2 linked regions of the Homo sapiens genome follow. Each later gene encodes a partner of the first gene's protein in a complex. Each region holds a gene or a part of one and is shown on either strand. Other genes may lie near its edges. The genes, in order: NET1 and RHOA.

What was found.
Region 2: the proteins of NET1 (region 1) and RHOA are in contact, whole or in part, in a crystal structure (PDB 4XH9), measured with the Homo sapiens proteins. Residues at the interface, in NP_001040625.1 of Homo sapiens: Glu177, Ala178, Glu181, Gln270, Leu271, Lys274, Lys281, Gln291, Leu294, Glu295, Arg300, Lys301, Leu302, Asp303, Trp305, Ser306, Asp309, Arg312, Ser313, Arg314, Val316, Lys317, Leu320, Leu321, Glu324, Gln347, Leu350, Ser351, Ile353, Asn354; in NP_001300870.1 of Homo sapiens: Arg5, Lys7, Tyr34, Pro36, Thr37, Val38, Phe39, Glu40, Asn41, Tyr42, Val43, Asp45, Glu54, Trp58, Ala61, Gly62, Gln63, Tyr66, Asp67, Arg68, Leu69, Arg70, Leu72, Ser73, Pro75, Asp76, Pro96, Thr100, Pro101, Glu102.

Annotation. Positions count from the first base shown.
Region 1 is NC_000010.11:5,405,346-5,421,581, reverse strand, and holds the start of NET1 (neuroepithelial cell-transforming gene 1 protein), read right to left. Parts: upstream 9,026-16,236; 5' UTR 8,890-9,025; coding exon 8,762-8,889; intron 1-8,761. UniProt on the Homo sapiens protein: Acts as a guanine nucleotide exchange factor (GEF) for RhoA GTPase. May be involved in activation of the SAPK/JNK pathway Stimulates genotoxic stress-induced RHOB activity in breast cancer cells leading to their cell death.
Region 2 is NC_000003.12:49,399,864-49,416,474, forward strand, and holds the start of RHOA (transforming protein RhoA isoform 1 precursor), read right to left. Parts: upstream 12,114-16,611; 5' UTR 11,957-12,113; intron 6,944-11,956; exon of another isoform or gene 6,849-6,943; intron 1-6,848. Other genes in the region: TCTA (T-cell leukemia translocation-altered gene protein), read left to right, coding at 12,564-12,777, 13,193-13,247, 14,957-14,999. UniProt on the Homo sapiens protein: Small GTPase which cycles between an active GTP-bound and an inactive GDP-bound state.

The sequences.
Region 1 (16,236 bases):
GCCTTTTATTTTTGGCAACTACTACTACTAATAATAAAGATCCTGGGTTGTCAAGAATTGATTTAAGGCTATACCTTTAACTGGATATCCACTGTACAAATCCATCAATTAATTTTACTGGAAAAACAAAATTCAAAGAGTAAGCCTTATCACTGTTGGTAGATCATAGGTCATACTATTATTTTTCTACCAATGGACAGCATTATTTCAAATCTGCAAAAAAGGAAAATATAAAATCCTTAAAAGGATCAGTATGTATTTATATTTCTGCCATATGGGTGATATGTAAAGTTCTATGGCTTTCCCTAAGGCCCCGAAAGACAGAAATAAAATTATTTAAACATTACTTGTGTCCAATTTTCAGGACCTTAGACATAGGTACTATGAAGTGAGATTTAGAGACTAAGTAACTTGCCCAAGGTCCTTAAGAGCCAGAATTTGAACCTAGGAAGTCTGACTGCTTTTAATGCCTAAAATCTTTAAACGTTACTCTTTGTCTATGGGTTCTAGTCTAAAAGAATGTTAAAAGAATATACATTCTCAAAGGAGAAGACAGAAAATAATTAGGTAAATCAAAGCTGAGGCCAGAACAGACTTGGTATCAAAAAAACTAGGCCAGAAAAGCAGTCCTCGTTCTGAGCTCTCAATCATGTAGTATAACCTAGGGTTCTTTAGAAAGACCCTTGCTGGCCGGGCACAGTGACTCATACTTGTAATCCCAGCACTTTGGGAGGTCAAGGTGGGCGGTTCACGAGGTCAGGAGATCAAAACCATCCTGGCCAACATGGTGAAACCCCGTCTCTACTAAAAATACAAAAATTAGCTGGGCGTGGTGGCGCTTGCCTGTAATCCCAGTTACTCGGGAGGCTGAGGAAGGAGGATCACTTGAACCAGGGAGTCGGAGGCTACAGTGAGCCGAGATCGCGCCACTGCACTCCAGCCTGGCGACAGAGCAAGACTCCATCTCAAAAATAAATAAAAAAATAAAATAAAAAAGAAAGACCTTTGCCTACTACCCAGAACTGGGAGGTGAGGAGAAAGACGTTAAGAGGCCTGTCATATTGTAGGGAATATCTACATAGAAAACATAACTGCTGCCCCAGAGAAACTTGCACAGGTGTATAGAGGAGATGTATCAACAAACAACCTAAAATCCCAAATACATCTTATACAACATACCAAATATATTCCACCTGAGTTATAAAAATTGTATATTATAATATCTCACTGTACAGAATATCATAATGTATTTAGCTTCCTCCTCCTGTTTTTTCTAACCTTTCTACTACACAAATGTGCTAGGATATACTTTCTTGTACATACATCCATGTATACTTGCCCATTACTTTAAGATAAATTTCTGTGGGTAGAACTGCTTGGTTTAAATATTTGCATTAAAATTTTGTTTTATTTGCTATATTTCCCTTCAAATACACATAATGGGAATATCAGAAAGAGAGGAAAAGAGAAAAGAGCAGAAAAAAACTTCAGAGAAACAATGGCTGAAGCTTCTCCAAATTTATTGAAAAACAACCACCTACACATTCAGAAAAAGCTCAATAAACTTCAAGTAAGATAACACAAAGATATCCACAGACAGACACATCATAGTAAAAATGGCAAAAGTTAAAGATAAGAAAATCTTAAAAGCAGCAAGAGAAAAAAACACTTGTTATTTACAAGGAACCCCAAAAAGATTCTGACTTCTTAACAGAAACAATGGAAGACAGAAGCAGTGTGATAACACATTCAAAGTGCTCAAAGAAAAAGAAAATTTCAGCAAAGAATCCTATACTATCAAAATTATCTTTCGAGAATGAAGGAGAAACAAAGACATTCCCATAAAAACAACAACAACAACAACAACAACAACAAAACAAAGAAAAAAAACAAACAGAGAATTTGTTGGTAGCGGACTTGCCTTACAAGAAATACCATAAGAATTTCTGGCTGAAAGCCAGTGACCACAGACGGTAATCTGAGTTCACATACAAAACCCAAAAAAGCCTAGTAAAAGCAGTGTCAATGAAAAAAATCAGTAAAGAAATTCAAATGCTATAAATTAGAAAATTCTCACTTAATGCAAAAGAAAGCAATAAAGGAGGAATAGAGAAACAAAAGACATATATAACACGACAAAATGGCAGACATAAATCCAACTATATCAATAAATAACGTTAAATGTGATTGGAGTAAACAACCCAATCAAAAGAAATGGACAGCCAGACAGGATCAAAACCAACCAACCAACCAACCAACCAACCAACCAACCAACCAAGATCCAACTATATGCTGTCCACAGGAGACACACTTTAGTTTCACAGATATAAACAGCTTGAAAATAAAGGGATAAACACGTATCATGCAAACAGCAAGCCACAAGAAAGCTAGAGTAGCTATATTAACATCAAACAAAATGGCCTTTCAAAGAAAAAAATGTTACCAAAGAGGGATATTTTATAGTGATAAACAGATTGATCCATCAGGAAGATACAATTACAAACATATGTGCATATAAAAACAGCACAATCTCAATAAATGTAAAAGGATAGAAATAATACATAATACAAAGTGTATTTTCCAGCTGCAATGTAATGAAATTAGAAAAAATTTGTGAAAGTCACAATTATGTGGAAATTAAACAATTCATTCCTAAATAACTAATGGCTCAAAGAAGTCAAAAAGAAATCAGAATTTGAGATTAATGATAGTGAAGACACAATATATCAAAATTTATGAGATGCAGCTAAAGCAATGCTCAGAGGGAAATTTATAGCTGTATCCCTATATTAAGAAAAAGATCTCAAATCAGTAACTTAATCTATAATCATGACACTGGAAACAAAAAGGGCCAACTAAACCTAAAGCATGCAGACTAATCTGAGCAGATTACTCAGATTACTAAGCAGGAAGAAGGAAACAATAAGGATTAAAGTGAAAATAAAACAAAGAATAGAAGAACAAAGAAAATTAATGAAGCTAAAATCACATTCTTTGGAAAGATCAAGATTGACAAGACTGTAGCTAGATTGACCATCATCATAAAAAGAAAGAAGACACAAATTACAAGAATCAGAAATAAAAGAGGGGACATTACTATTGACATTACATGAAAAGGATTATAAAGAAATACTATGAACAAGGAAGGGTACACCAACAAATTAGATAACTTTGATGAAACAAATTCCTAAAGAGATACAACCTACTGAAACTGACTTAATAAGAAACAAACTATCAGAAGACACCTACAACAAGAGATGAGATTGAATTAATAATAATAATAAACTATCCACAGAGAAAAGTCTAGGCCTAGGTGGCTTTACACTGAATTCTACCAAACATTGAAAGAATACCAATTCTTCACAAACTCTTTCAAAAAAAACAAAACAGTAGGGAATACTTCTTAACTGATTTTATGAGGCCAGTATTATCCCAATACCAAAACCAGACAAGCATAGTACAAGATAATAAAACTACAGATCAATATCTTATGAATATATATACAAAAATATTCAACAAAATATTAACAAAATGGATCCAACAATATATTTAAAAAAGCTATACACAATGACCAAGCAGGACTTATACCAGGAAGGCAAAGTTGGTTTAACATCCCAAAAAATCAATTAATGTAACACATCAGTAATAACAACAACCACATGATCATTTCAATAGACAAAAGAAAAAAAACCCTAAAACCTTTCATGATAAAAACCACTCAAAAACTAGTAACAGAATGGAACTTCCTCAACCTGATAAAGGACATCTACAAAGCTTACAACTAACATCATACTTAATGGTGAAAGATTGTATGCTTTCCCCTTAAGATCAGAAACAAGACAAGAATTTCCCGTCTCTCCACTTCTGTTCAGCGTTGTACAGGAGGCCCTACCCAGGGCAATTAGGAAAGAGAAAAAAGTAAAGGGCATCCAGAGATTGGAAAAAGAAGTAAAACTATTTTTATTTGCTGATGACATGACCCTGTACACAGAAAGTCCTAAAGAAACCACTAAAAAACTATTAGAACTAATGAGCTCAGCAAGGTAGCAGGATCCAAGATCGATATACAAAAATCAATTGTATGTATTCCTATACAATTGAAATTATTAAACTGAAAATAAAGTGATACAAAGCGGGGCAGGGAAGTGCTGCGTAGAGGAGAGCGTGGTCCCTTGCTAGGGCTCCATCCCCAGGCCTGGGCCCACGGACCTAAGTGAGGATAGGCATTTCTGTTTTCCTACCCAAATGTTGCATTTCCCAAGACCACCCTGGCTCACCACACCCCCATCCTGTGCCTATAAAAGCACGCCCCCACCTGTGCCTATAAAAACCCCCCGAGACCCTAGCAGGCAGACACACAGGTGGCTGGATGTCAAGAGGAACACATCGACGTGGGAGTACACCAGCACGCTGGCAGGCCAGCTGGCAGGCCATCGATTCGCAGAATGACGCAGAGCTTGGCCAGGGAGGTTGGAGGAGAATCGGGCAACCTGACACCAGGGCAAAACCATTTCCCTTCTGGCTCCCCCATCTGCTGAGAGCTACTTCCACTCTATAAAAGCTTGCAATCATTATCCAAGCCAACGTGTCATCTGATTGTTCCAGTACATCAAGGCAAGAACCCTGGGATACAGAAGGCCCCCTGTCCTTGAAATAAGGCAGGGGTCTAACTGAGCTGATGAATACAAGCCGCCTACGGATGGCTAAACTAAGAGTACCCTGTAACACAAGCCCACTGAGGCTTCAGCTGTAAACATTCACCCATAGACATGGCTATGGGGTTGGAGCCCCACAGCCTGCCTATCTATATGTTCCCCTAGAGGTTTGAACAGCAGGGCACCGAAGAAGCGAGCACACCTCCAGTGCACGCCCTGCGAGGGGGAAAAGGGAACTTTTCCCATTTCAAAAGAAATGAATCCATTTACAACTGCATCAAAAAGAACAAAATACTTAGGAATAAATTTAGCAAAACATGCAGAACTATACTCTGAAAACTACAAAACACTGTTGAAAATAATTAAAGATCTAAATAATTGGAAAAACATCCCTTGTCCATGGATCAGACTACTTAACTCTCTGTAGAGGGCAATACTCCTGAAAATGATCTACAAGATTTAATGCAATCTCTATCAGAATCCCTGTGGACTCCTTTGTAAAAATCGATTAAGCTGATTCTAAAATTCACATAGAATTGCAGGAGACCCAGGATAGCCACAACAATCTTGGGAAAAAAAGAACAAAGTAGGAGGACTCACATATCCCAATTTCAAAACTTACTATACAAAGCAACGGTAATCAAAACACCATGGTAATGGCATAGGGCTATTACATATAGATCAAGAGAATAAAAGTCAAAGTCTAAAAATAAACTCTCATGCTTAAGGTCAACTGATTTTTGACAAGGGTGCTAAGACTACTCAGTGGGAGAAAGAACAGTCTTCAAAAAATGGTGCTGGGGTACCTGGATAGACACATGAAAAAGAATTAAGTTGGACCGTCATCTCACATTATATACAAAAACTAACTCAAAATGGATTAAAGACCCAAATATAAAAGCTAAAATGATAAAATTCTCAGAAGAAAGCACTGGGGAAAGGATTCATAACAATGGATTTAGCAGTGATTTCTTGGATGTGACACCAAAACACAGGCAACAAAAGCAAAAATAGACAAGTAGGACTACAAACTAAAACATTTTTGTGCTTCGAAGCACATCATGAAAGTGAAAAGACAAACCACAGAATAAGAGAAAATATTTGCAAATAATCTATCTGATAAGGGACTTGTATCCAGAATAAAGAACTCTTAACAACTCAATAAAAAAGAAATTTAAAAATGAACAGGGCCAGGTGCGGTGGCTCACGCCTGTAATCCCAGCACTTTGGGAGGCCGAGGCAGGCAAATCACAAGGTCAGGAGTTCAAGACCAGCCTAGCCAACATGGTGAAACCCTGTCTTTACTAAAAATACAAAAAATTAGCCACACGTGGTGACACATGCCTGTAGTTCCAGCTACTTGGTAGGCTGAGGCAGGAGAATCACTTGAACCCGGGAGGCGGAGGTTGCAGTGAGCCGAGATCATGCCACTGTACTCCAGCCCCGGTGACAGACTGAGACTCCGTCTCAAAAGAAAAAAAAAAAAGAGCAAAGGATGGCCCACCAAAAATGGCCACACACATTACATAAATCCATTCATATGCAATGTCCAGAACAGAGAAATTCCTACAGACCGACAGATTAGGTTTTAGGGCAGAAGGGGTAGGAGAGGAACAATAGCTAAAGGGTACAAATGCTCTTTTTGAGGTGATGAAAATGTTCTAAGTAGTACAATTTAAGTGGGTAAATTGTACTGTACGTATTTGTCTTTCAAATTAGTTTATACTGAGTTTTGCCTGCAGAACGTTTTTCAATAGTCACATAATCATACACACAAATCTTTTTCCTTATGATTTCTGAATCTGATACAGTGCTTAGTTGCTTCTTGCCTCACAATTAATACTATCTTGTAATATTTTACGTATTCTTGTAGATGATCTTACATCTTTTCTGGAAAAGGAATATGTTATTTAATTCTCCATTTTCTCTCCATGGTTCTTCTAACTGTGTCTCACTCTCCTCATGCTGCCTGTGTTACTACGCTTTTCTCACAATGTATCATTTCCTACCTCACACAAAAAATAGAGGCCTGGTGGGAAAGTCCTCAAATTCCTGCTCACAACACACCCCATTCTTCAAAACTATATATCATCCATAGCTTCTTGTTAGGCTAAATCCTCTACCTTGAATTTGGATTCTGTCCTTTTCTGCCTTCTTGGATCCTTGTTCAACCATTTTTCTCCTCTACTGTCTGTTCAACCTCTCCCTCTATTTGTTAACTCAGCACAGCACATCAAGGGAATTTATTCTTTCTTAAGAGTCTATCCCACAAAATTGTGTTATTTCTCTCTATTCTTTCTTGTCTTCCTGTTGCAGTGAAACTTCTCTTCACCAATCCCATTGCCAGCTATCAGATTCGAACAATCATTTTTTCATTTAGACTACTGCAGACTGATTTCCTACCAATCCATCAGCTAAACTTGGAAATTTTAATTTGGTATACACAGCTGGGTCCACAAATCTCCTGAAATGTTTATGTATATGTGCACATTTTTGGGGAATAGTTTTCATAAAATATGAAGAGTGAGATGACTCCAAAATGTTGCTTATTTTTCTCATGGAAGGCAAACTGATCTTTTAAAATGCAAATATGTCATGCCATTGGCTCATTTAAAGTCTTTCAGTATTTCCCCATTACCATGAAGATAAAACCCAAACTCTGTCAAGGCATACAAGGTCTCTTCATGATGTGGCGCTTACCTCTTTAGCATCATCTCTCATGACTACCTCCTCCTTCTCCCCATATTGGTTTCCTCTCCTCTATACAAATATCACTGTTAATATAGTAATAAAATAGAATATATACCCAGAACTCATCAGACTCATTTGCTTCAGGGCCTTTCTACATGCTTCTCTGCCTGAAATCATCCATTTACATCTGCTCTCTAAACTGGTCCTTAAAGACTCAGGGATTACAATAGGAAATCATTTCCTATTCTCTCCAGTCAGGATTAAGTGTTCCTTTTAATCTACGGCATTCTGTGTATATCACTATAATAACTTTTATCACATATTATAATAATTATTAACCTACTTATCTTTCTTCCCCACTAGATTATAAATCTTAAATAGTAACAAGAGTATTTTTCCATTTCCATATTCCTAGTGTTGGCACTCACATTATTTTCTGAACAAATCGCACATTCTCTTCTCAACCTGTTGCAAAACACTCTAAGTTCGATATTGTAACCATTCTTGGAAACCATCTAAGATCAATACTCTCTTCTCATTACCAAATTTAATTTTCATTCCTCATCTAGCTTAATCCTCATCTTATTTTACTTAATCCTCATTTTATTTGACCTATCAATAACATCTGACATAGCTCGCCACGTCCTCTTCTTGAAATTCTTTCTTCATTTGGCCTCCTGGATACTGTTCTCACTTGGTTCCCTTCCTCCTAATTCACTAGCTATCCCCTGAGCTTCGCTTTGTGAAATTTCACTGAGCCAAACACGAGTCATACACTCTCATTTCAATGTATACTTCCACAAAAAGTAAAAAGAAAAAACACGAAAATGGTTGTGATGAACTCTCTAATAGGCATCTCATAACATATCCCGAAGTCAACTTATCCCTTAGTCTTTTCTTTCTCAGGACATGGAAGCCCATTCTCGTGGTGCTCACCATGACAGTTTCGGTCTGAGCAAAGGCATTTGGGAACGCCAGCCTACAGCCAGTTGGGTGTGCAGAACAAAACCATTGTGGTTTTTCCTAAGTCTCCCCTGAGAAACAGTCAGGAGGCGAGGAGACTCAATAAACCCGCCCCTTTGCCACAGGCAGGGAAAATCGCAGTTTGGGGTCTCAGGACCGACCTCGGTCCAAGGCCAGGCACACTGTCACTCCAGCCTGTGCCACCCTCACTTCCAGCGGCCCCCGTCCCCCCCCCCAACCCCGCGGTCACCTCCCCCACCCCCCACTCACCTCCCAGCGGCCCTCGCCTCCCCCTGGCCCTCACCAACACCCCCACTCGCCGCCCCCCACATCCAACTCCCGGCCAGCCCTCCCCTCCCCCCGGCCCTTGCCTCTCCAACACTCACCTCCCGTTCGGCCCTCCGCTCCCCTACACTCACCTCCCGTTCGGCCCTCCCCTCCCCCACACTCACCTCCCGTCCAGCTCCGACCCGGAGGTGTCGGCCGAAGGCCCCGTCGCTCCCTCCGTGCTGAGCCCAGAGGCCCGGCGGCTTCGCCTCCGCGGTCGAGGCTGCTTCTGAGCCGCCAGCTCGGGCTCCATGGCACGGAGGAGGGGGTGGGGCGGTGGCCGGGTGCCCGGGAGACCGGCAGGGACGGGCACGATGCCCGCCAGCCTCTGCCAGGCAGAAAGCGCCTGTCAGCGGACTGCAGCCGCCACCGCCGTCATCCGGGGATTTGAAAATGGCGGCTGAGCAGCGATCAGCCAATCAGTGAGCGCGCAGCGGTTCCTAGGAGACGTGGAGTCCCGCCCCTCCACCGCTCCCGGGATCTACTTGCCTAGGAAAGAACCTAGGAAAATTTGCCCTTAACTCCTGAGCGCATCCCTGAGTCCCTAAGGCCCGGTACCTCCTTCATTGTTCATTAGGACTTTCACTACAGGCCAAGGCAAATGGACTGGAAGCATTTTAATTCACCAGATCTTTCTTAGCATTTGAGGAGAAGAGAGGTCCAAACTAATGACCTGTAAACAAGGCATGTTTATTGGCCATATTCACACTGAATTATTGTGCACGTGGCCAATATGAGATATATTTCCAATTACCAAAGGTTATGCAAGTGTGTTCCCGGGACTGTCTCTAGGGAACCAGCAAAATCTAATTATGAGCCCTTATGTCTTCCAATAAGCATGACACAGTCTCTCCCTAGCAAAACAGAATGAAGTGACTTCATCCTTTGCTTGTAAAAGTCAGCAAAAGACATAATATAAAATAAAAGACCGCTTCAAGTAAAAAAAAAATTGTTAAACAAATTACACTTTCTTTGATTTTAAATATTGCTTTATATGTGTCAAAGTCTTTAAAAATAGCTTCTCCTGACCGGGCGCTGTGGCTCACGCCTGTAATCCCAGCACTTTGGGAGGCTGAGGCAGGCGGATCACGAGATCAGGAGATCAAGACCATCCTGGCCAACATGGTGAAACCCTGTCGCTACTAAAATACAAAACTTAGCTGGGCAGAGTGGCGCATGCCTGTAATCCCAGCTACTCAGGAGGCTGAGGCAGGAGAATTAGTTGAACCAGAGAGTCGGAGCTTGAATTGAGCCAAGACCGTGCCACTGCACTCCAGCCCAGTGACAGAGCGAGACTCCGTCTCCAAAAAAAAAAAAACAAAAAAACACTTCTCTTTTGCCAGTATATTTCCACTTATGGAAATTTATCCTAAAAAATAAAATTATATAAACATGAAGCTATTAATGACATTGTTTATAATAGAAACATTTAAAACAACCTAAATAAACAATGATTTATAGCTCATCCACTGAGAAGAATATTTTCAGCCAACAAAAATGAAGTGTGAAGTATGTAATAGTATACTGGTAATTTGAAATAAAAACATGAAGTATAGAGGTATATTCAGTATATTCAAAGTTATGAATTACAAGAGATTATACAAAGAAAAAAGATAATGTATTAAAATGTATTAAATGTATTAAAAAGTCAATGTATTAAAATGTCTCTAGGTAGACTTTAGGTATTCAAAATTTTTATTTTTATTTTTTGCATTTAATTTTTTTAAAAATAAGGACATATTGAATTTGCAGTACCTTTATAACATGAGGGAAAAATGTTTTTGTTTTAAAAAGAGTAAGAAATTAGGGAGTAACATTGAGATGTGAAGCCAGCTAGACTTCCTGGGTAGAGTGGGGACTTGGAGAACTTTTCTGTCTGGCAAGAGGATTGTAAAACACACCAATCAGTGCTCTGTAGCTAGCAAGAGGATTGTAAAATGCACCAATCAGTGCTCTGTAAAAAGCACCAATCAGCAGGACCCTAAAAGTAGCCAATCACAGGGAGGATTGAAAAAAGGGCACTCTGATAGGACAAAAATGGAACATGGGAGGGCACATATAAGGGAATAAAACCTGGCCACCCCAGCCAGCAGGGCAACCCACTGGGGTCCCCTTCCACACTGTGGAAGCTTTAGTTCTTTCACTCTTTACAATAAATCTTGCTGCTGCTCACTCTTTAGGTCTGTGCCACCTTTAAGAGCTGTAACACTCACCATGAAGGTCCATGGCTTCATTCTTGAAGTCAGCGAGACCATGAACCCACCGGAAGGAACCAGCTCTGAACATAAGTTGACCTTGGTCAAGAACCACTTCTGTTCTACCTTCCCCATCCCTCCCCAAAAATTAAAGAAGAAAGTACTGCTTTGTAGCAGTTAGAGTGTAAGAATACAGAAATGTTCTTAATATTTGGGGAGTTGGTCTCCACCAAGACAGAGCTTCAGAGGATGCAGATGTTTAGATTATGAACAAAAATAAACCTGTAAGAGCAATTCTTCAAGTCAGGTCCCAAGTAGGTCACAACTACTCTGTGTCCAGAAAACTCACACCCCTTTGGGATTTTCACAATTTACCCGAATTGACCAATCAGGGCTCACCTGATGTAACCGATCAGAACTCATCTGCTTTATCCAATCAGGGTTCAGCTGTATTACCCAATCTGAACTGAGCAAGTCTGAATCTTTCCTTTGCATAAACACATCTGATTGGAAACCTGGACAAGAACTTTTTCTATAGAAGCCAAACCCTCCCCTTTATTCTCTGGAATCACCTTTCTTTTACTCCGAAGGCTGTGTCTCCCTGGTTTGCAAACTGTTCACTAGAATAAAGTCTCCTTTCTCCAAACTTCCTTTTCAGAGAACTTTTGTTCACAAGATAGGACCATGTGAATCGCTGACGCTTGGTCTTTTTACCCACAGAAACAGCCGTTTCATATTAATAGTTTCAACATACTTCGGTGAGATCCTCAGAATTCAGGGTCTGTCCTCAGCTTTGCAGGTCCTGAAACTGGTTTTGATTGTGTCATCAGAGGTGGTCAGTCCTTTGGTAACTTGTAATAACTACTCACAAAATGATAGATACTGCAGGATGTCAATGTGGGGATTCCAGTGGTGGGGGTGGGCACTTCTTTCCAGTGACCTGAATACTATTGTTTTATGCAGAGCAACTGTTTCCAATTTTCATTCACTTGAGAACTTATGATTTTGTTCAATTATTCACAAGAATTTATTAAATTCCTGCTATAATATGCCAGGATCTGTGCTAGACATTAGGGAAATAAGGAATAGAAGACAAATTTTCATCAGAAAATGGCTGGGTACCATAGAAGAAGAGCAAAGAAAAGTGACCGCTCTGAGGGTTGGTCATTGAAGACCTGGGAAAGGCTGGTGACATCTCTTGATCTTACAAGAGATCAACTTTCTGGTGTCTGAATGCCATTGTCCCCATGTTCTATGTCTTACACTGTATAGAACAGTCCCAAAACCATGACAAATGTTCTCTGAATCCTCTCTCTTTCAGTTCCCCACAAATCATCCTTCTCCCTTAAAATATTCACCGGGATAGGGTTTGAGGAAATTGTTTTGATTTCAGCTTTCATATATATAAAATCAGACTCTAGAACTCCCTCTCTGAGAAGATATTCCTACTAACTTGACTAGAGCAAAGTGTAACCCAAACTTTTTCAACCATGGATTTGCAAAACAAATATTCTTTTGGGGAACTTCCTCAAAGATTATTTCCAAAACCTTCAGCCCTATGTGATGACACCAATCATTTTGCAAGTTGATATTAAATAAATTCAACAATCAATAAATGAATGTAAATTATTATGTAAATCAATAATTTAAAAACCTATTTTCTTTCATTATCTAAGTAAATCAAACTATTTTTGCAAAACTGCTTACCAAGTTTTATATATATATATATATATATATGTATATATTAGAGTACAAAGTGTTCATCAAAACACTTTATTAATTTCCAAATTATTTGATGATTTTGATGTGATATTTTGTTTGCCATTGCTATCACTAGCTAAATGATTCCCCTTTGGTCTGTAGGCTCCCATAGAAAAATGTAGCAAATTTGCAAACAATGACCTACCATTAGAAAACTAGTAGTCTTAATAACTAGAGAATTGCCCTTTGCATCAACGTTTTTCTTTTTTGTCTGAATCTTCTCATAGCTTCTCATGAACTAACAGCAATTACATTCAGGAGAATGAATGTCTGTATGTGTGCATATACATATAATTTATATATAGAATGTTATAATAAAGTCTGAAATTTTTAAAAATATATTTACTATATCTACTATTGATTAATTTACAAAACTGTTTATTAGACTGTAATTTTTAATTGGGTCAAACTTAATTGTTCCTGCCAAATGAAAGGGAGTGTAGTCCAACAGCTAAGTATGTGGACTGCATTGATTGTCATTCTGACAAGCAGAAGTGTACTTATAGGCACAATAGGGCAGAATATTTGAAATCAGGTTTGTCATCCCTTAAAATCTATCACTGTGTGTGTATGTGTGATGTGGGGGGAGGTTGTTTCATTTTTTGCCTCAATCAGTCAATCAATCAATCAATCATCTATGAATCATTTGTTTACCATATTGGTTTACTCTTAGGTATTCCAATGAGGAAAATGGAAAACTCCAAAATCTAGCTGTTGAGCTTAGAGAACAATAAAATTTGAGATGAAATATGTGTGGCCAGAGAAGGTGCTATTAATCCAAAGTAGACTGTAATTCATTTTTCTTAACGCTTAGACTATCTTCCTAAAGACATTGCAGGTCTAAAAGACTGATTTATATTAGTAGTAGGAGAGGAGAACAGAGGAGGAAGGAGAAAGGGGTTTCAGTGCAATGGTAGGGGCCAGAGAGAATGGCAAAGGACAGTGATCTGGCTGTGGTTGTGAGGCTGCCAACAGAGAATTACCAAAGAGAACTTCAGAAATGTCAGAATGTCAATCAGAATTATTGCTCAGAGTTGAATAATTTTTTTTTTTTGTAACAAATTTTCATGCTTAGAAGGTTTTGTTTGTCTCATTACTTGGCCAGTGAATTGACTGGCTCACAATGAAAAATACTTAAGAAAGGAACTTTTTTTTTTTTTTGAGATGGAGTTTTGCTCTTGTTGCCCAGGCTGGAGTGCAATGGCGTGACCTTGGTTCACTGTAACCTCCGCCTCCAGGGTTCAAGTGATTCTCCTGCTTCAGCCTCCAGAGTAGCTGGTATTACAGGTGCCTGCCACCACACCCGGCTAATTTTTTGTATTTTTAGTAGAGATGGGGTTTCACCACATTGGCCAGGCTGGTCTTGAACTCCTGACCTCAGGTGATCTGCCCACCTTGGCCTCCCAAAGTGCTGCGATTACAGGCATGAGCCACTGTGCCTGGCCAAGAAAGGAACTTTGAACAAGGACATCGTAACTATAAATACCACACTTTTATCACTCTGCCATTTTTTCACCCTCAGAACCTAAGGGTGGCCACCAAGTATGTCAGAGTCAGTATTGTGTGTGTGATTTATTTTAAGGAATAAGTTAGTGTGATTGTGGGGCTGTAAAGTCTGGAATCAGTAGGGCAGGCTGGCAGACTGGCAGGCTGGAAACTCCTGAGTAACAGCTAAAGCTGAAACTAAAGGTGCCATCCTTAGGAGAAATTTCTTCCTCAGAGAAATCTCCATTTTACTCTTATGGTCTTTCAACTGATTGGATGAGGCCCACTCACATTATTGAGGATGATGTCCTTTACTTAAAGTCAAAGTTTACTGGAGATGTTCACCACACCTCCACAATGCCTGCACAGCAATACCCAGACTAGTGTTAGATTGGATAACTGGGTGCCACAGCCTAGCCAAGTTGACACAAAAACTATCACCCCAGAAGGCCTCTTCAGACGTGAAATTCCAATTATTATCACTTGAGGAAACTTTTTTCTTTAAGACTTAGTCTTTCAAAGAAATAAGGAATTACTAAAAGATAAGATGCATTTCTTAAATTATACTACAAAAGAGATTTTTCTAGTTTCTTTCTAATTCCTACGTAAATCTAAGTTAATCATAGCTCCATGTCAGACTGACAATTTTTAAAAGTTAATGAAAGATACTGAGTACATCAGTGGACTAGAAATGAGATACTCACATTATCTGATTTTTCCCTCATCTTGTTTCAAACTGAAAATATCTGGGACCAGTGGGAGAAAATTTGATACAGCAACAAAATAAATATCATTCTGATTTTATAAAATGGAACTGGCTTAATTTTTCTTTTCATTATATGGAACTACCAGGATGCTAAACATTTGGGGAGTTATTGACAGAGACAGATAGGATTGACTTTATGAAGATCAAAATGAGAGAAAGTATAATTTATAATAAGTTCAGGAGAAAATTGCTGAAGAACACTATGGTTTCTTCATTTTCTCAAAGTTGTAAGGAAGAATTGGTAGAAACCAAGATTCTTGAGTAACAGAAATTTTGTTTTGATTACTGAATAATAAAATTGTTACTATGCTAACAAAACATGTCATTAATTCAAAAGAAGATCAGGAAGAAAAGAGAACTTAGAAAATGGAGACAAACAGAAAGCACAAAATAAAATAGTACTCTATATCTAAACCCAACTATATTAGTTATTATATTAAATGTAATGAGCTGAATTCTCCAATTCAAATACAAAAATAGAAAAAAAATTCAGTTATATCATGCATACAAAGAACACATCCAAAATATGAGAATATGGAAAGGTTTTAAGTTTCTAAGAATGTAAAACGATGGGAAAATACATCATTCAAATGTGAACCAAAAAACTGTATTAAAGTAGTAATATTAATATTTGATCATAAAAACTTTAAGGTAGGCCAAGGCGGGCAGATCACGAGGTCAGGAGATCAAGACCAGCCTGGCCAACATGGTGAAACCCTGTCTCTATCAAAAATACAAAAAAATTAGCTAGGAATAGTGGCACACACCTGTAATCCCAGCTACTTGAGAGGCTGAGGCAGAAGAATCGCTTGAACCTGGGAGGTGGAGGTTGCAGTGAGTTGAGATCGCACCATTGCACTCCAACCTGGACGACAGAGCAAGACTGCATCTCAAAAAAAAAAAAAAAAAAACTTTAAGGTAAAAATAATTAATGTATATAAGGAGGGTAATTTAAAAATAAAAAATTGTTAAAGTTTTTGAAAATATAATAATTTAAAATTTATGTGCTCTTCATAACATGGCCTCAAAATGTATAAAGGAAAAATTGACAGAAAAAGAAATAATGGGTAAATTCACAATTATAATGAAAACTTTTAATACATCTTTTGAAATAATTGATACGTAAAATTTGGACTACACAATAAATCCATTTGATTTAATAGATTGATTGATTGAATGATCGGTCTATCTAAAATATTGCATCCAACAAATGTAGAATGCACATTCTTTTCAACACTCATGGAATATTTTCAAAAATTGACCATATAGTAGAATATAAAGGAAGCTTTAGCAAATATATAAGGAGAGAACTCAGTTAAGATGTGTGATCTGATCTTAGTGCAATTAATAAAAAATAATAACATAAGTATATATTATGTATAATAATATAAAA
Region 2 (16,611 bases), on another chromosome or scaffold:
TCAAGGGGGTAAGAAATAAAGCAATACATATGCAAAAATCCATCTTGGAATCTGAACTCAAGAAACTACAGAAACGGCTGGGCACGGTGGCTCACGCCTGTAATCCCAGCACGTTGGGAGGCCGAGGTGGGCGAATCAGGAGTTCGAGACCAGCCTGACCAACAAGGTGAAACCCGTCTCTACTAAAAATACAAAAAAATTAGCTGGGCATGGTGGCACGTGCTTGTAATCCCAGCTACTCGGGAGGCTGAGGCAGGAGAATCGCTTGAACCCGGGAGGCGGAGCTTGCAGTGAGCCGAGACCGCGCCACTGCACTCCAGCCTGGGTGACAGAGCGAGACTCCATCTCAAAAAAAAAAAAAAACAAAAAAAACGAAACTACAGAAGCATACTGCCCCCCTCTCCCCCAACATCTTCCCTAGTCTAACCAAAACTGGCCACCCCCCACCACCTCCTGTTTCTATAAGGAGATAAAACAAGATTATCTGTGTTCAGGCCAAGGGTTGATTCCCACTACTCATAACATTTCCCCTAAACCTCATTTTAAAGGCCAAGAGTTACACCCTCACCACCAGAGGCCTCAGTGGCTTCCTGGCTACTCTAAATTCTTCTTTATCCCTGAACTCCTACAGCACTTCGTCTTTCAGTGCTGTTTCATGCCTATGTGAGCTTGAATCACTGAATACTTTGTTCTGGTACAGAGAAGACTGTATCAGGACTTGGTGCCATGCGTCTGTAATCCTAGCTACTCAGGAGGCTGAGGTAGCTGGATCCCTTGAGCCCAGGAGTTCAAGGCTGCAGTGAGCTATGATCATGCCACTGCACTCCAGCCTGGGTGACAGAGCAAGATTGTAGCCAAAAAGGTGAGGTGGGGGGATGGTATATAAAAGGGTTAATTTCCAGCCGGGCACGGTGGCTCACGCCTGTAATTCCAGCACTTTGGGAGGCCGAGGCGGGCGGATCACGAGGTCAGGAGATCAAGACCATCCTGGCTAACACGGTGAAATCCCGTCTCTACTAAAAATACAAAAAAATTAGCCGGGCATAGTGGCGGGCGCCTGTAGTCCCAGCTATTCGGGAGGCTGAGGCAGGAGAATGGCGTGAACCCGGGAGGCAGAACTTGCAGTGAGCTGAGATTGCACCACTGCACTCCAGCCTGGGCGACAGAGACTCCGTCTCAAAAAAAAAAAAAAAAAAAAGAGTTAATTTCCTACCTTTTAGAAAGGAAACTTTCAAAAGCCCAAATTACTAATATTAGACACTAGGGCCTTCAAATTTACTTCCTCTAAGTTACTACCCTTCTTTTCTGAATTGACCTTAGGAAGTTACTTCTTTCCAAACAAGACCTACAAGTAACAACGCATAGTATGTAAAACTCCTGACCAGGTGTGGTGGCTCACAACTGCAATCCCAGCACTTTGGGAGGCAGGAGGACTGCTTGAAGCCAAGAGGTGGAGACCAGTCTGGGCAATACAGTGAGACCTCATCTCTCAAAAAAATATGAAAACGGACAGGCAAGGTAGCTTATGCCTATAATCCCAGCACTTTGGGAGGCCATGGCGGATGGATCACTTGAGCCCAAGAGTTTGACACCAGCCTGGGCAACATGGCGAAACCTCTGGGAGGCAAAGGTTGCAGTGAGTGGAGATCGGGCCACTGCACTCCAGCCTGGGCGACAAGAATGAAACTCTGTCTCAAAAAAAAAAAAAAAAAATTGGGGAAATGAAGTTGAAAACATAGAGCTGTTTATTTTGTTTACTGACTGCATGGGAAATTCCTGATGAAAGGGCCAAACTACCATCCATCCATCTGTCCATAATGAACTTGAGCCTGGTATAGGTTGAGTACTGCTTATCCAAAATGCTTGGGCCCAGAAGTGTTTCAGATTTCAGAATTTCTTCAGATTTTGGAATATCTGCATTATACTTACTGGTTCAGTATCCCAAATCCAAAAATTGAAAGTCTGAAAGGCACCACTAGGCATTTCCTTTGAATGTCATGCCAGCGCCCATCTTGAAGCATTTCAGATGCTCAACCTGTACTGCCATTATTTGGCCATCCTGATCAAGTGGCTGCCAAGCTCTTAGTTCAAGAGCTTTCCTTTCTGTAGCAGTAAGGGCACTTGGAGATCAAGAGCAGCAGGAATAAGGCACATGGTGGTAAGCAATGAAGAAAACCTTCAATTTACTGCCAAGTGAAAATCACTTCAAACTCAAGTTCTTTGGGGAAAGACAGGCAAGGAACAATCCCTGAGGTAACATACCGTCAAGTTTCCTAAATAAGAGCATGAAATCATTTATCTCAAAATGTAAATATTATAAGGTTAACCTTCAATGGATGCACAGAATCAGGATTTGACTTTGTTTGGCCTAATTCCAAACTTACATTGCCTCTAAGACAATGCGTATCTAGTAAAACTGACAAAGAAAAATGAACCATTAGGTACCTCCCAGTGAGCTGGCTAAGAATTTATATATGCTTATTGTAAACCTTATTGCAGGAGTTTACTTTTACCAAGTATATATATTTCTTAAAATAAAAAACTAGGCCGGGTGCAGTGGTTCACACCTATAATCCCACCACTTTGCGAGGCCAGAGCTCAGGAGTTAGAGACCAGCCTGGACAACATGGCAAAACGTCATCTCTATAAAAATTAAATTAATTAACTAGGTATGGTGGTGCTTGCCTGTAGTCCCAGATGCTCATGAGGCTGAGGCAGGAGTATTACTTGGGCACAAGAGTTAGAGGCTGCAGTGAGCCACGATAGCACCACTGCACTCCAGCCTGGGAAACAGATCAAGACTCTGTCTCAAAAACAAACCAAAACTTGTCATATTCTAGGAAGCCAAGCAAATAAAACGAATGAACAAAAAAACTAGTCTAAAAAACTTTAGGCCAGGAGCAGTGGCTCACACCTGTAATTCCAGCACTTTGGGAGACCGAGGCAGGAGGATCACAAGGTCAGGCCTTTGAGACCAGCCTGGCCAACATGGCGAAACCCCGTATCCACTAAAAACACAAAAAATTAGCCGGGCGTGGTGGCGGGTGCCTGTAGTTCCAGCTACTCGGGAGGCTGAAGCAGAAGAATCGCTTGAACCCGAGAGGCGGAGGTTGCAGTGAGTTGAGATCGTGCCACTGCACTGCAGCCTGGGCAACAGAGCGAGATTCCATCTCATAAAAAAAAAAAAAAAGAAACCCGCCGAGCGCGGTGGCTCACGCCTGTAATCCCAACACTTTGGGAAGCAGAGGCAGGCGGATCACAAGATCAGATCGAGACCATCCTGGCTAACAGAGTGAAACCCCATCTCTACTAAAAATACAAAAAGTTAGCTGGGTGTGGTGGCACGCACCTGTAGTCCCAGCTACTCAGGAGGCTGAGGCAGGGGAATCACTTGAACCCGGGAGGCAGAGGCTGCAGTGAGCCAAGATTGCGGCACTGCACTCCTAGATGACAGAATAAGACTCCGTCTCAAAAATAAAAATAAAAATTTAAAGCCTTGAGGAAATGCTCTTTAACTCGACTGAGTGGCAATTACTTGGGTATACACATTCATCAAAATTTATCAAACTGGCGGTTTGTGGTGGCTCATGCCTATAATCCCAGGGCTTTGTGAGGTTGAGACGAGAGAATCACTTAAGGCCAGGAGTTCAAGACCAGTCTGAGCACATAGTGAGACCCCTCTCTCTACAAAAAAAAAAATTACAAAATAAAAATGTAGCCAGGCGTGGTGGTGCACACCTGCAGTCCCAGCTACTCGGGAGGCTAAAGCAGAGAATTCTTGGGCCTAGGAGGTCGAGGATGTAGTAAGCCATGATTCCGACACTGCACTTCAGCTGGGTGACAGAACAAGGCCCTATGTCTAAAAAAAATAAGAACAAAAAAATTATCAAACTATCATTTAAAGTATGTGCATTTTATTGTATGCAAATTAAACCTCCATGAAGGTAATTAAACCTCAGGTGATTCCAATTTGGGGAACTGGATTCCAAGTTTGGGAACAGTGGAGTCTAGGAACCACTGTTCTTAAGTACCAGGAACCAAGTAGTAAGCCCTGTTTTATTCCAAGAAATCTTAGGGTGCTACTCCCACTACCCTCCCACCACCCCCGAAAAAAGGTACTACAAACTGTAACCTGAATAGTGAAAGTTGAAGATAGCTGGACTCAGTGGCTCATGCCCGTACTTGCAGCACTTTGGGAGTCTGAGGTGGGAGGACTGTTTGAGCCCAGGAGTCTGAGACCCAACCTGGGCAAGACAGCAAGACTCCATCTCTACAAAATGTAAAAATATTAGCTGGGCGCAGTGGCACATACACCTGTAGTCCCAGCTACTAGGGAGGACGAGGCGTAAGGATACCTTGACACCAAAAGTTGGAGGCCACCATGAGCTATGACTGTGCCACTGCACTCCAGCCTAGATGACAAAACAAGACCTTATCTCTCCAAAAAAAAGCCAGGCGCAGTGGCTCACACCCGTAATCCCAGTACTTTGGGAAGCCAAGGCAGGTGGATCACAAGGTCAGGAGTTCAAGACCAGCCTGGCCAACAAAGTAAAACCCCGTCTCTAGTAAAACACACACACACACACACACACACAAAATTAGCCGGGCATGGTGGCACGCACCTGTAGTCCCAGCTACTTGGGAGGCTGAGGCAGGAGAATCGCTTGCACCCTGGTAGGCAGAGATTGCAGTGAGCCGAGATTGTGCCACTACACTCCAGCTTAGACAACAGAGCAAGACTCCGTCTCAAAAAAAAAAAAAAAAAAAAAAAAAAAGGCCAGAAGGCCAGGCACGGTGGCTCACGGCTGTAATCCTAGCACTTTGGGAGGCCAAGGCAGGCAGATTGCCTGAGCTCAGGAGATGGAGACCAGCCTGGGCAACATGGTTAAACCCCGTCTCTACTAAAATACAAAAAAAAAAAAAAATTAGCCAGGCGTGGCAGCATGCACCTGTAGTCCCAGTTTACCTGGGAGGCTAAGGCAGGAGAACCGCATGAACCCGGGAGGCAGAGTTTGCAGTGAGCCGAGATCACGCCACTGCACTCCAGCCTGGGCGACAGAGCGAGACTCTTGTCTCCAAAAAAAAAAATAATAAAAAAAGTAGGCCAGGCGCGGTGGCTCACACCTATAATCCCAACACTTTGGGAGGCGGAGGCAGGCAGATCACCTGAGGTCAGGAGATCGGGACCATCCTGGCTAACACGGTAAAACCCTGTCTCTACTAAAAATACAAAAAAAAAAAACACCTAGCCGGGCGTGGTGGCGGGCACCTGTAGTCTCAGCTACTCAGGAGGCTGAGGAAGGAGAACTGCTTGAACTCGGAGGGCGGAGGTTGCAGTGAGCCGAGATCGCGCCACTGCACTCCAGCCTGGGTGACAGAGCGAGACTGTGTCTCAAAAAAAAAAAAAAAAAAAAAAAAATTAGCTGGGCATGGTGACATGCCTGTAAACCCCAACTAATGGGGAGGCTGAGGCAGGAGAATCACTTGAATCCAGGAGGTGGAGGTTGCAGTGAGCTGGGATCACGCCATTGCACTCCAGCCTGGGCAACAAGAGCAAAACTCCATCTCAAAAAATAAATAAATAAAATAAGTTAGTTGAAGGGCTACATGTCTGGCACTTGAGGTAAGTGCTTCTCTCTCACTGAAATCTCATGGCGCTTCCTTACCATTCCCTTTCTACAGAAGAAAAAAACTGAATTACAAAGGAGACATACTACTGCCAAGGGTCTCAAGCCATCAAGTGTCAGAGCTAGTATTTAACTGTCAGTTTCTCTCCAGAATCCATGCTCTTAAATAAGATACTCTACTGCCTTTTCTTTCCTTCTTTTTTTTGTGTGTATGTTTGAGACGGAGTTTCGCTCTGTTGCCCGGGCTGGAGTGCAGCAATCTTGGCTCACTGCAACCTGCGCCTCTCAAGTTCGAGGGATTCTCCTGCTTCAGCCTTCCGAGTAGCTGGGATTACAGGCACTCACTAATACACTCGGCTGATTTTTGTATTTTTAGTAGAGATGGGGTTTCACCATGTTGGTCAGACTGGTTTCGAACTCCTGACCTCAGGTGACCCACCCACCTCGGCCTCCCAAAGTGCTGGGATAACTGGCATGAGCCACCATACGCAGCCTGCCTTCTGTTTCTGAACTTAAGATCTTCAAAAGATAAACAGAGCTTCATTATGAATAACTGGAAAAGTTAAACAAGAGATTTCATCCAGAAAAGAAATTTTCCACACACACAAAAAAACAGGTATTTCCAACAAAGCTGCCATATCACATAATAAAATTATCTTGTAGAAAAAAGCATTAACAAAGTGTTACAACATTAAATATCCATCTTAAATTTACTTCCTTAACCTCTCAAAGCCTATATCCCAAACAAAGTTACAAAAAAAAATCCCAGTAGTAGAGCATATGATCTCTAGGTCCATGGAAGAGACACCAGAGAATCACAACTCATCTGCAACATACAGACTAGGATACAATGGCTAGAAGAATACAGTAAAATAAAAATGTATACATAACAAAAGTTAGAATGCTCAACCATATACTTGAAGTCAAAACAAGCAACTTTTTTAAATCATGGGACTGAATCCTTGTGCTTTAGAGCAGCTATAAGCTTCAGAAATTAAAAATCTTGGCCAGGGTAGCTCACGCCCGTAATCCCAGCAGGAAGCTGAGGCGGGTGGATTGCCTGAGGTCAGGAATTTGAGACCAGCCTGGCCGACATGGTAAAATTCTTGTCTCTACTAAAATACAAAATACAAAAATTAGCCAAGGGTGGTGGGCAGGTGGTGGATGGCACCTGTAATCGAGCTAGTGGGTAGGTTGAGGCACGAGAATCGCTTGACTCACATCTTTAATCCCAGCACTTTGGGAGGCTGAGGCAGGAGGACAACTTGAGCCCAGGAGTACAAGATCTGTCTGGGCAACATAGCAAGACACCATCTCTAGTACAAAAAAAGAGAAGAAAAAAATAAAGCAAAAAAATTTTAAAAACAAATCCTTAGTGGCTCATGCTTGTAATCCCAACACCTTGGGAGGCCAAGGTGGGTGGGTCACGGGGTCACGAGGTCAAGAGATCAAGGCCATCCTGGCCAACATGGTGAGATCCCGTCTTTACTAAAAATACAAAAATTAGTCGGGCATGGTCACACACACACACCTGTAGTCCCAGCTACTCTAGAGACTGAGGCACGAGAATCGCTTGAACCTGGGAAACAAAGGTTGAAGTGAACAAAGATCACTCACTGCACTCCAGCCTGGGTGACAGTGAGACCCTGTCTCAAGAGAAGAGAAGAGAAGAACCAATGACTTCAAATAAAATAGGCAGAAGTCACTAAGTCAAGGAAATTAATATTATGAAATCCTTTCCGTTTTTTTTTTTTTTTTTTTTTTTTTGAGTCTTGCACCGTCTCCCAGGCTGGAGTGCAATGGCTCGATCTCTGCTCACAGCAACCTCCGCCTCCCAGGTTAAAGTGATTCTCCTATCTCAGCCTCCTGAATAGCCGGGATTATAGGCGCCTGCTGCCACGCCCAGCTAATGTTTTGTATTTTTAGTAGAGACAGGGTTTCACCATGTGGCCAGGCTGGTCTCAAACTCCTGACCTCAAGTGATCCACCTGCCCAGCACTTCCAAAGTGCTGGGATTACAGGCATCAGCCACTGCTCCCAGCCAGGAATTCCTTTTTATATTTGTCCAAATTATCATATTAGTTTACTATTTAGTCAGAATGGAATTAGATCTACTCCTACTCACAGTGATTCTAGTTTTTTTTTTAATATCAGATCATGTCATTCCCTTTCTAAAGAATATCTAAATGACTTCTAATCTCAGAACAAATCCAAAGAATTTCCCATGTCCTAAAGGCCCTATATGATTTGGCCCCTGCCCACCTCTCTAACCTCTTTTTACCTCCAACTTTTCCTTTCACTCCACTTCAAACTTACTTCATTGGCTGTGTATGTTTTCCTCTTTCCCTTCACTTAAATTTAAGATACTATCATAAATATGCTTAAATATGGCCAGACATAGTGGCTCTCACCTGCAATCTCAACACTTTCAGAGGCCAAGGGGGGCAGATCACAAGGCCAGGAGTTCGAGAACAGCCTGACCAACATGGTGAAACCCCGTCTCTACTAAAAATACAAAAATTAGCTGAGCACAGTGGCGCATGCTGGTACTCCCAACTACTCCAGAGGCCGAGGCACAAGAATCACTTGAACTAGGAGGCGGCGGTTGCAGTGAGCCGAGATGGCGCTACTGCACTCTGGCCCGGACGACAGAGTGAGACTCAGTCTCAAAAGAGAAAAAAAAAAAAATATATATATATACACACACACATACACACACGTATATGTACACATATATATACGTATACACGTATATGTACACATATATATACGTATACACGTATATACGTATACACAAGTATATATACATATACACACACACACATATGCTTAAATATACATACTCATCCTCTTCAAAAAATAAAATCAAGCTAAGTTTGGCATAAACTGCATACTGATTGCAATTTAGCAAGAGTATTTGATGTTTTTCTTTATTATTAGCTATAAAAATGTATTTGGATGAAGCATCAATAAACTGAGACCAACACCCAGAACGAGCAGCTTCAGTGCCTGATTTTCAGTCACATGACTATCGTAATTATGAACATACCAAGGCCTTCACTTAATACTACAGCTCCACAGATTAAAGATGAGGGATTTTATAGTAATTACAAACTTCAAACCGTCTTGGAAATTTTAATCCCACAAATGAGCATGTCCCCAAAGAGCCCCATGTATAGCAAGGCATGTAACATTAAGTTCAAAATTTAGTTATATTAATGTGTAGTTACAAGCAAACAGTTCCATTGGGCAGGTAAACAAAGGAATAAACTAAATGGCAGAGTCAGACAAAATACTTAAGATCCTTTTTTTTTTTTTTTGAGACGGAGTCTCGCTCTGTTGCCCTGGCTGGAGCACAGTGGCGCGATCTCAGCTCACGGCAAGCTCCGCCTCTCGGGTTCACGCCATTCCCCTGCCTCAGCCTCCAGAGCAGCTGGGACTACAGGCGCCCGCCACCACACCCAGCTAATTTTTTTTGTATTTTTAGTAGAGACGGGGTTTCACCGTGTTAGCCAGGATGGTCTCCAGACCTCGTGATCCGCCCGCCTCGGCCTCCCAAAGTGCTGGGATTACAGGCATGAACCACCGCGCCCTGCCAGGATCCTTTTAAAACTACAAATATGGGTGGGCGTGGTGGCTCACCCTTGTAATCCCAGCACTTTGGGAGGCCAAGGCAGGCGGATCACCTGAGGTCAGGAGTTCAAGACCAGCCTGGCCAACACGGTGAAACCCCATCTCTACTAAAAATACAAAAGTTAGCCAGGAATGGTGGTGGGTGCCTGTAGTCCCAGCTACTCCAGGGGCCGAGGCAGGAGAATCACTTGAACCCAGGAGGCAGACGGTGCAGTGAGCTGAGATCGCGCCACTGCACTCCAGCCTGGGCAACAGAGTGAGACTCCATTTCAAAAATAAAAATAAATATAAAACTACAACTATATGGCCAATTTTAAAATCCAGTGACTATGTACTATTTATCATAATCACTAGTAACCACAATGCAATTAAACCCAAGGTGCTGTCTACAGAAGGCCAGCAGCTTCAAATTAGCTCTCTTAGAAGCTGATCAGTCTTTCTTCTCAGAGTTAACATATATCTCTCAGCTCTCTAAGACAATTAAAAAGACGCAAACTAGCACCTTCTCCAGTCACTGCATGGACTCCACCCCATGGACAAGAAACACCTGAAGAGCTACCTGTTTTTACTCTCCTAATAACTTACACCCCCATATGACCAGAATAAACTTTTAAAAAGCAGTTAACTGACAAATGGAAAGAAATCAGGACTACGAAAATACTCCACCACCACCACATGCATGTGCACAGGGAATTGTTTACTTGATACACGCAGTACCCCAAATCAACAGTCAAAAGTGCCCACAGTTAACTAAAAATATCTTAGCCTGACCTAAATATCTTGGTTTTGAAGCAGTAAAGTGTAGGCCTTGCTCTAGAAGTTGGTCCCTTAAAAAAAAATCCAAACAAAGCCATGATTAGGCCAACCAGGGACCCTCGTACATTCATCTATCTCCCTCAATTGAAGGCAGGACCATCCAGTTAACAAGGGGAGAGTGCTGTGTAAGCTAATGAACCGAAATTTTTTGGCAAATGAACAGTTTCTCCCAAACTATTCACCATCAACAAGGTTTAAAAGAAGAAACAATGGAATAAGCTAGAAGTCCTGAATTTTAGCTGACTCTGGAGGCCAACTGCTTGGGAGTAAATGGAGAATACCTTAACAGAGCAGACAGTTCTGGTCTGCTCCTGACTAGATAGGTAACCTTGGGAAATTTACTTAAGTCTCTGGGACTCAGTTTGCTCATCTGCAAATGGGGTTGGACAACCAGTCCTGAAAGATTCCTCTTAGATCTAAAACTCAAGAACTACACAGTATTCCTACTCTCTTCTTCCCTCCAACACAGATTTTTATGAGAACAGAGAGGATAAATCTAGCACTAGACTTTAACTCAAACCAAGGTGCACCTTATATATTTAATGTCCCCAAGAGCCATCAGTGCTCCACAAAAGTAGATGGAACCAATTAAGACAAGTTATCCAGAGATCCTTCAATAAGTCATTCTTTACAATTAAAAACTAGTTTTTCAGTCCAATGTCACTTGTGCCAAATGCTCAAAACAGTATCTCCGCCAATCTAGCCACATCTAAGGTGACAATCATCCGCATGGTACACATTACACATCTGGGTGATACTAAGTGGTTGAAAAATTCTCTCCACATACAACATTTTAAATTATGGAAGTTTTTTGGTTTTTCAATTTTTCTCCTTCAGAAAGGCAGAGTGAAATATCTACTTACACACCTGCAAGAAACGTTTAAGACTTTCTTCAAGACAGAACCAAACAAGTCAACAACAGAGGTAAAAATTTAAAATCAGAACTATTAAAAAACACAAGTGGAACCAACTTTGAGGTAAAAAGGATTCCAATTTTCCACCGTAAACTACTAAACAAGGTTTGTGAACAAATCAACTTGGATGCGAATAGCGCTATTCAATGAAGACGACCCGTAACTGTAGATCCAATCAGTAACTAAGGTACAGATATTTAGATCATTCCTAATCAATACAGCGACTTCGACTAAGCAACATTGCATCTATTTTCATGCAACATCGCTTAAATCATTTACAGTTTTGTGTGTTGTTTTTTTTTTCCAAATGGAAAATACCCCTTTTCCACTCAAAACAGACCCCAAAGCTTTCAGACGAGTTCGGGCGCGTTCCAGGTGGTATGGCCGTAGATCATACCCCTAAGCGTTCAATACAATCTTTTACTTACTTACACAGTCTCCAACAAGTCTGCATTAAAAGAAAACCTACCCAAAGTGTAACTGGACTTTAATCAATATGAAACAGTGATTGTCGTTTCTCGTTAAACGTAAAAAGCAAAATGGAGTTGTAAAGAGTTTCTTTCCCATTTCAACTCCGACAGCCACGCGCGCTTTCAGCGGCCGGCTACACTGCGCGGTCGCGGGGCCCGGCCCAAAGCCCCCGCCCTGCCCGGCGCCGCTGGGAGAGGAAGCTCCGGGGACCGAGGGCGGGCAGGCGGGCAGCCTGGGCTCCACCAGGCCCGGCCGGGCGGGGGAAGGGGCACAGGAGACTACCGGGCGCGCTTCCGGGGACTGCGCGGGCGGGGTCGCCGCTTGGGGCGCGGGGCCCGGGCTGGGAGTCAGGTCAAGGGTCAGGGGCCAGGGGCGGCTCGGCCACGAGCAGCCGGTGGGGCGCGGCCGCGGCGGTGCGGCGGCCTGCCGGCCGGAAGAGTACCGGGCTGGCGGGCCTGGGGCCCCGCGGCGCCTGGAGGGAACCCTTCCGCTCACCTCAGGCAACGAATCCGAGTCCAGCCTCTTCGCGCCGGGGACGCCGGTCCGCGAGTCGCAAACTCGGAGACGAAGGCGGGTAGCTGAAGACCAGACCGTGGACTAACGAGAGAACCGACGGAGGACCGCGGGCGGCGGGAGGGTAGCGCGAGAGAGCGAGGGCGGGCGGCGGCGGGAGGGCGGGGAACGACGTGCGCGCCTCCGAGTGCCCAGCGGGCTCGAGCCGGCACAGGTCGCGGCCCCGCGCACGCGCGCGCACTCACAGCTCATCCACTATTGCTCAGGAGCCCGTCCACGCCCTAAAAGCAAAACCCTTAACCAATCATTGCAGCCGCGTGGGGCATCACGGGAACTCCGGGGCTATAAAAGACCTGGTTGCTATTTTGTACTCCCGGAGTCACTCATCCCTTAAGCAAGCAGGGTGGGGTTAGGTGCGCGTGCGCGGTTTTAATACTCCTCCCCGAACTGCCAACTCTTCACGCACGCGAAGTAGGCCCCACCCTGGCTGGGTTTACGCGTGCGCACTAACGGGCCTGGTCCCGGAAGACCACACGCGTGCGTGGTGGGGACTACGGTGACAGTACCCCGGGTGGGGCGAGGGCCAGTCATGGCGGAGTCCTGGTCTGGGCAGGCCTTGCAGGCTCTGCCGGCCACGGTGCTGGGCGCGCTGGGCAGCGAGTTCTTGCGGGAGTGGGAGGCGCAGGACATGCGCGTGACCCTCTTCAAGCTGCTGCTGCTGTGGTTGGTGTTAAGTCTCCTGGGCATCCAGCTGGCGTGGGGGTTCTACGGGAATACAGTGACCGGGTTGTATCACCGTCCAGGTGAGGCTTCCTACGAACCTCCGTGGGCTGGCCGCCCCCGCCCCCACCCTCTCCCGACTGTACCATTGGGTTCCCCACTATCCTGCAAGAGGCTCATCAGAACTTAACATTGGTTCACGGCCTTACTACCCTGAACGCATCTGACCTCGGAAGCTAAGCCAGGTACTTGGATGGGAGAACTTAACGTTGTGCCCTGACTCATGCCACCATACCATTTTACGCCAGAATCCCCACCAGTCCACCCATCACATTGTATCTGTTCCTCAGAACTCTCACCTGGCAATACCATTAGTCCCTTAGGACCCTCACCAGACTTCACCAAACAATACCAGTGGTCTCTAACCTGACCTGGGCTGATGCCTGCTCAGATTCCCACCCCAGCCTTCTGCAGCTCTGGATGTGTTTCTGCCTCCAGGTCTGGGTGGTCAGAATGGATCCACGCCTGATGGCTCCACGCATTTCCCTTCGTGGTGAGTAAATCTGTCCATACCGCAACCCCATGCTTGGCATTCCAAGGACACTCCTGTGCTGGTGACAGAGAGGGGAGTTCTCAGGCTTTAAGCCCACCAGCTTAATGGCCTTTGCAGCAAGCTTCAAGTCTGCACGTAGAGCTCAGGCTTCAAGTTAGGGTGACACCAAGGTCTGGACAGTCCATCATCATGCTGTTCAGCAGCCTGTAGGATAGGTGGTGGTATTGTCATAATTTCAGAGAGATGAAATGACAGGTTTGTTGGATTCCACTCTGCACAATCCCCTCAGTTGGGAAGGCAGTAATCTCTGTCCTGAGCACATTGACCTCATCAGGGTCAGCCTCCTCTTCTGCAAAACATGCGCTCACTAATCAGGGCATTCATTCAGATAATCTCTGGGCCCCTATCACGTGATAGGGGCCACACGAGGCCCAGAGAACAAAGACAACCCGGGCCCTGCTCATGGGGAGCCAGGGATTTATTAGGGGAGGGCGGCAGTGCATGGGGCAAGGGTGGTCAGGGAAGGCTTCTCCCAAGAAAGACACCTAAGCCGAGATCAAATGCCACAGGGTGACAAAGTGTACCAAGCAAAGGGAATGGATTGAGCAAGGCTAAGAGGGAAGAATACGGGTGACATATTAGAATAGGTAAGACTGTGATGCTGGAGCTTGAACGTGAGAGCTTGTTGGACCCTGGGAGCCATTGAAAGACTAACTCAGCAAGGCTGTGGTCTGATCTAATTTGCCTTTATAAATGCCTACTTCATGGCAAGTAGATAAAGGGGTCCAAGAGTTAGGGCTAGAGGTTAGAAAGGCTGCCACTGCCCAGGTTTCTGTCTTAGAGAAGAGGCCAGGCCCCATGGCTCATGCCTGTAATCCCAGCACTTTGGGAGGCTGAGATGGGCGGATCACTTGAGGTCAGGAGTTTGAGACTAGCCTGGCCAACATAGGGAAACCCCGTCTTTACTAAAAATAGAAAAAATTAGCTGGGCATGGTGGCATACGCCTGTAATCCCAGCTACTCGGGAGGCTGAGGCATGAGAATCACTTGAACCCAGGAGGCAGAGGTTGCAGTGAGCCCAGATCACGCCACTGCACTCCAGACTGGGCATCAGAGTGAGACTCTGTCTCAAAAAAAATAACAGGCCGGGCATGGTGGCTCACGCCTGTTCCTAGCACTTTGGGAGACTGAGGAGGGTAGATCACCTGAGGCCAGGAGTTTGAGACCAGCCTGGCCAACATGGCGAAACCCCGTCTTCACTAAAAATACAAAAACTAGCTGGGTGTGGTGGCGGGCGCCTGTAATCCCAGCTACTTGGGAGGCTGAGGCAGGAAAATTGCTTGAACCCGGGAGGTGGAGGCTGCAGTGAGCTGAGATCTTGCCATTGCACCCCAACCTGGGCAACAAGAGTGAAACTCCGTCTCAAAAAAAGAAAAGTAATAACAATAGTAATAAATAAAAAGAATAAAAAAACTAGAGAAGGATGGCAATGCCGTACTAACATGGAGAACCAGGAAGAAGAATGAGTCTGCAGGGAGAAGGTGCTGGGCCCAGGGTGGGCTGTGGGAGACCAGCAGAGAGGTCTAGATTGTTATGTGACCTTACTGAGCCTAGCTCAGCCCCCAAGAAGGAGCTTGGGAGAGCCAATTTCAGCAACTGTTCTGCCCATGGAATAACCACTCTCTCTTCTCTCTCTCCATCACTTTCAGGGAAATGGCAGCAAACGAACCTCTCAAAACCCACAGAGAATAAGGGAAGGCAGCAGAGGGTCTCCAAGGGCATCACTGGGTCTGCTGGCTTCTACACTGGGTTCTGCTACTCCCCAGACCTCAGGGACAACTGCCGGGGGTTCAGGGTTGGTAGCAGGGAGTACCCAGTGCCTACAGGGCTGGGCCTCTTCTGCCTCTTAAGCCTGCTCCCTCACCCAGGCACTGGGCAAGTGAAGAGTTTGCCTGTACTCTTATCTGGGTGCCTTAAGGAGAGAGATTGTGTTCTTCCTCTCTCAGGGGTGATAACTCAGGAAGCCTCTGGGTTGGGAAGACCATCAGTTCTTTTGTCTTAGGTTTCTTTTCCTGTCCCTCTTCCATCCCCAAGATGTGACCCCATAAAAATTTTTCCTGAGTTGGCCAGGCATGGTGGCTCACGCCTGTAATCCCAACACTTTGGGAGGCTGAGGCAGGCAGATCACGAGGTCAGGAGTTCGAGACCAGCCTGACCAACATGGTGAAAACCCCATCTCTACTAAAAATACAAAAATTAGCCGGGTGTGGTGGCACACACCAGTAATCCCAGCTACTCAGGAGGCTGAAGCAGGAGATTTGCTTGAACCTGGGAGGCAGAGGTTGCAGTGAGCCAAGATTGCGCCGTTGTACTCCAGCCTGGGCAACAGAGCAAGACCCATCTCAAAAAAAAAATTTTTTTCCTGAGAGGAAGCCTGAGGTTGACCAGCTCTGGGGTTTGTAAGGCAGGTCTGTTTTCTCCTAGGCCCTGAGTTTTCTGAATCTCTGGTTTTGCTTTGTTGGCAAGGAGCCAGGGAATCCTGACCTGAGCCAGACCTTAAGCTCTATGGTTATTTAGCTGGCCATTCAGGTATAAGGCAGGGTGGTGTACCTGCTGGCACTATCCAGATGGAGGCACCAAACACCCACATACCTGGCCCAACCAGACTTCTCCCGTGAGCCAGGCAAAGGAAATTGTCATCTGCCAACTGTCCTACTCATATTCCTCTCAGTCCTTCTTGGGGGTAAGCTGATTACCTGAAGGACAGCTGAACCCCTGGGGTAGCCTCCTATCCACCACTGCTTAAGTGCCTATGGGAATGTGGGTCTGCACCTTGTCCCCTCATAGGATGGTACCAAGCATTTAGTGCACAGTGGCCCCATCATAGCCTGCAGCCTCATCATTTCCCATCTGGACCTGGTACAAATGCACGTCACAGGCTCAGCTCCTCCCCACTAGCATTTTCTCTACCTTCAAGAACCAGGCAGCCCTGCCATGTCACAATAGGCCAGGGGAGTTTCCAAAGATGTGGGTGGCAAATGCCCCTATAGAAACACCAGTACCTGAAAGCACTGTAGCCCTGGACCTGCCTCCTTCCCTCGGGGCCATACTTCTGTTTCCATCTGCTGGGCCACCAGCCACTTTAGTGACCCCTGCCTACTTCCTTCCTGTTGGATATCATACTTCCATCTGGCTGCCTTTGCTTAAGCCATCTTTGTGGTAGAGGGGCCCTGGAATTGCAGCTGTACTGAGGATGATGTTATTCACAGCCCCTGGCCCACCCACTAATACTACTGCACAGAGTCAGGATCTCACATTTCACCCCAGGCTCAACTGAGGATGTGGCTTATTAAACACGGAAGTG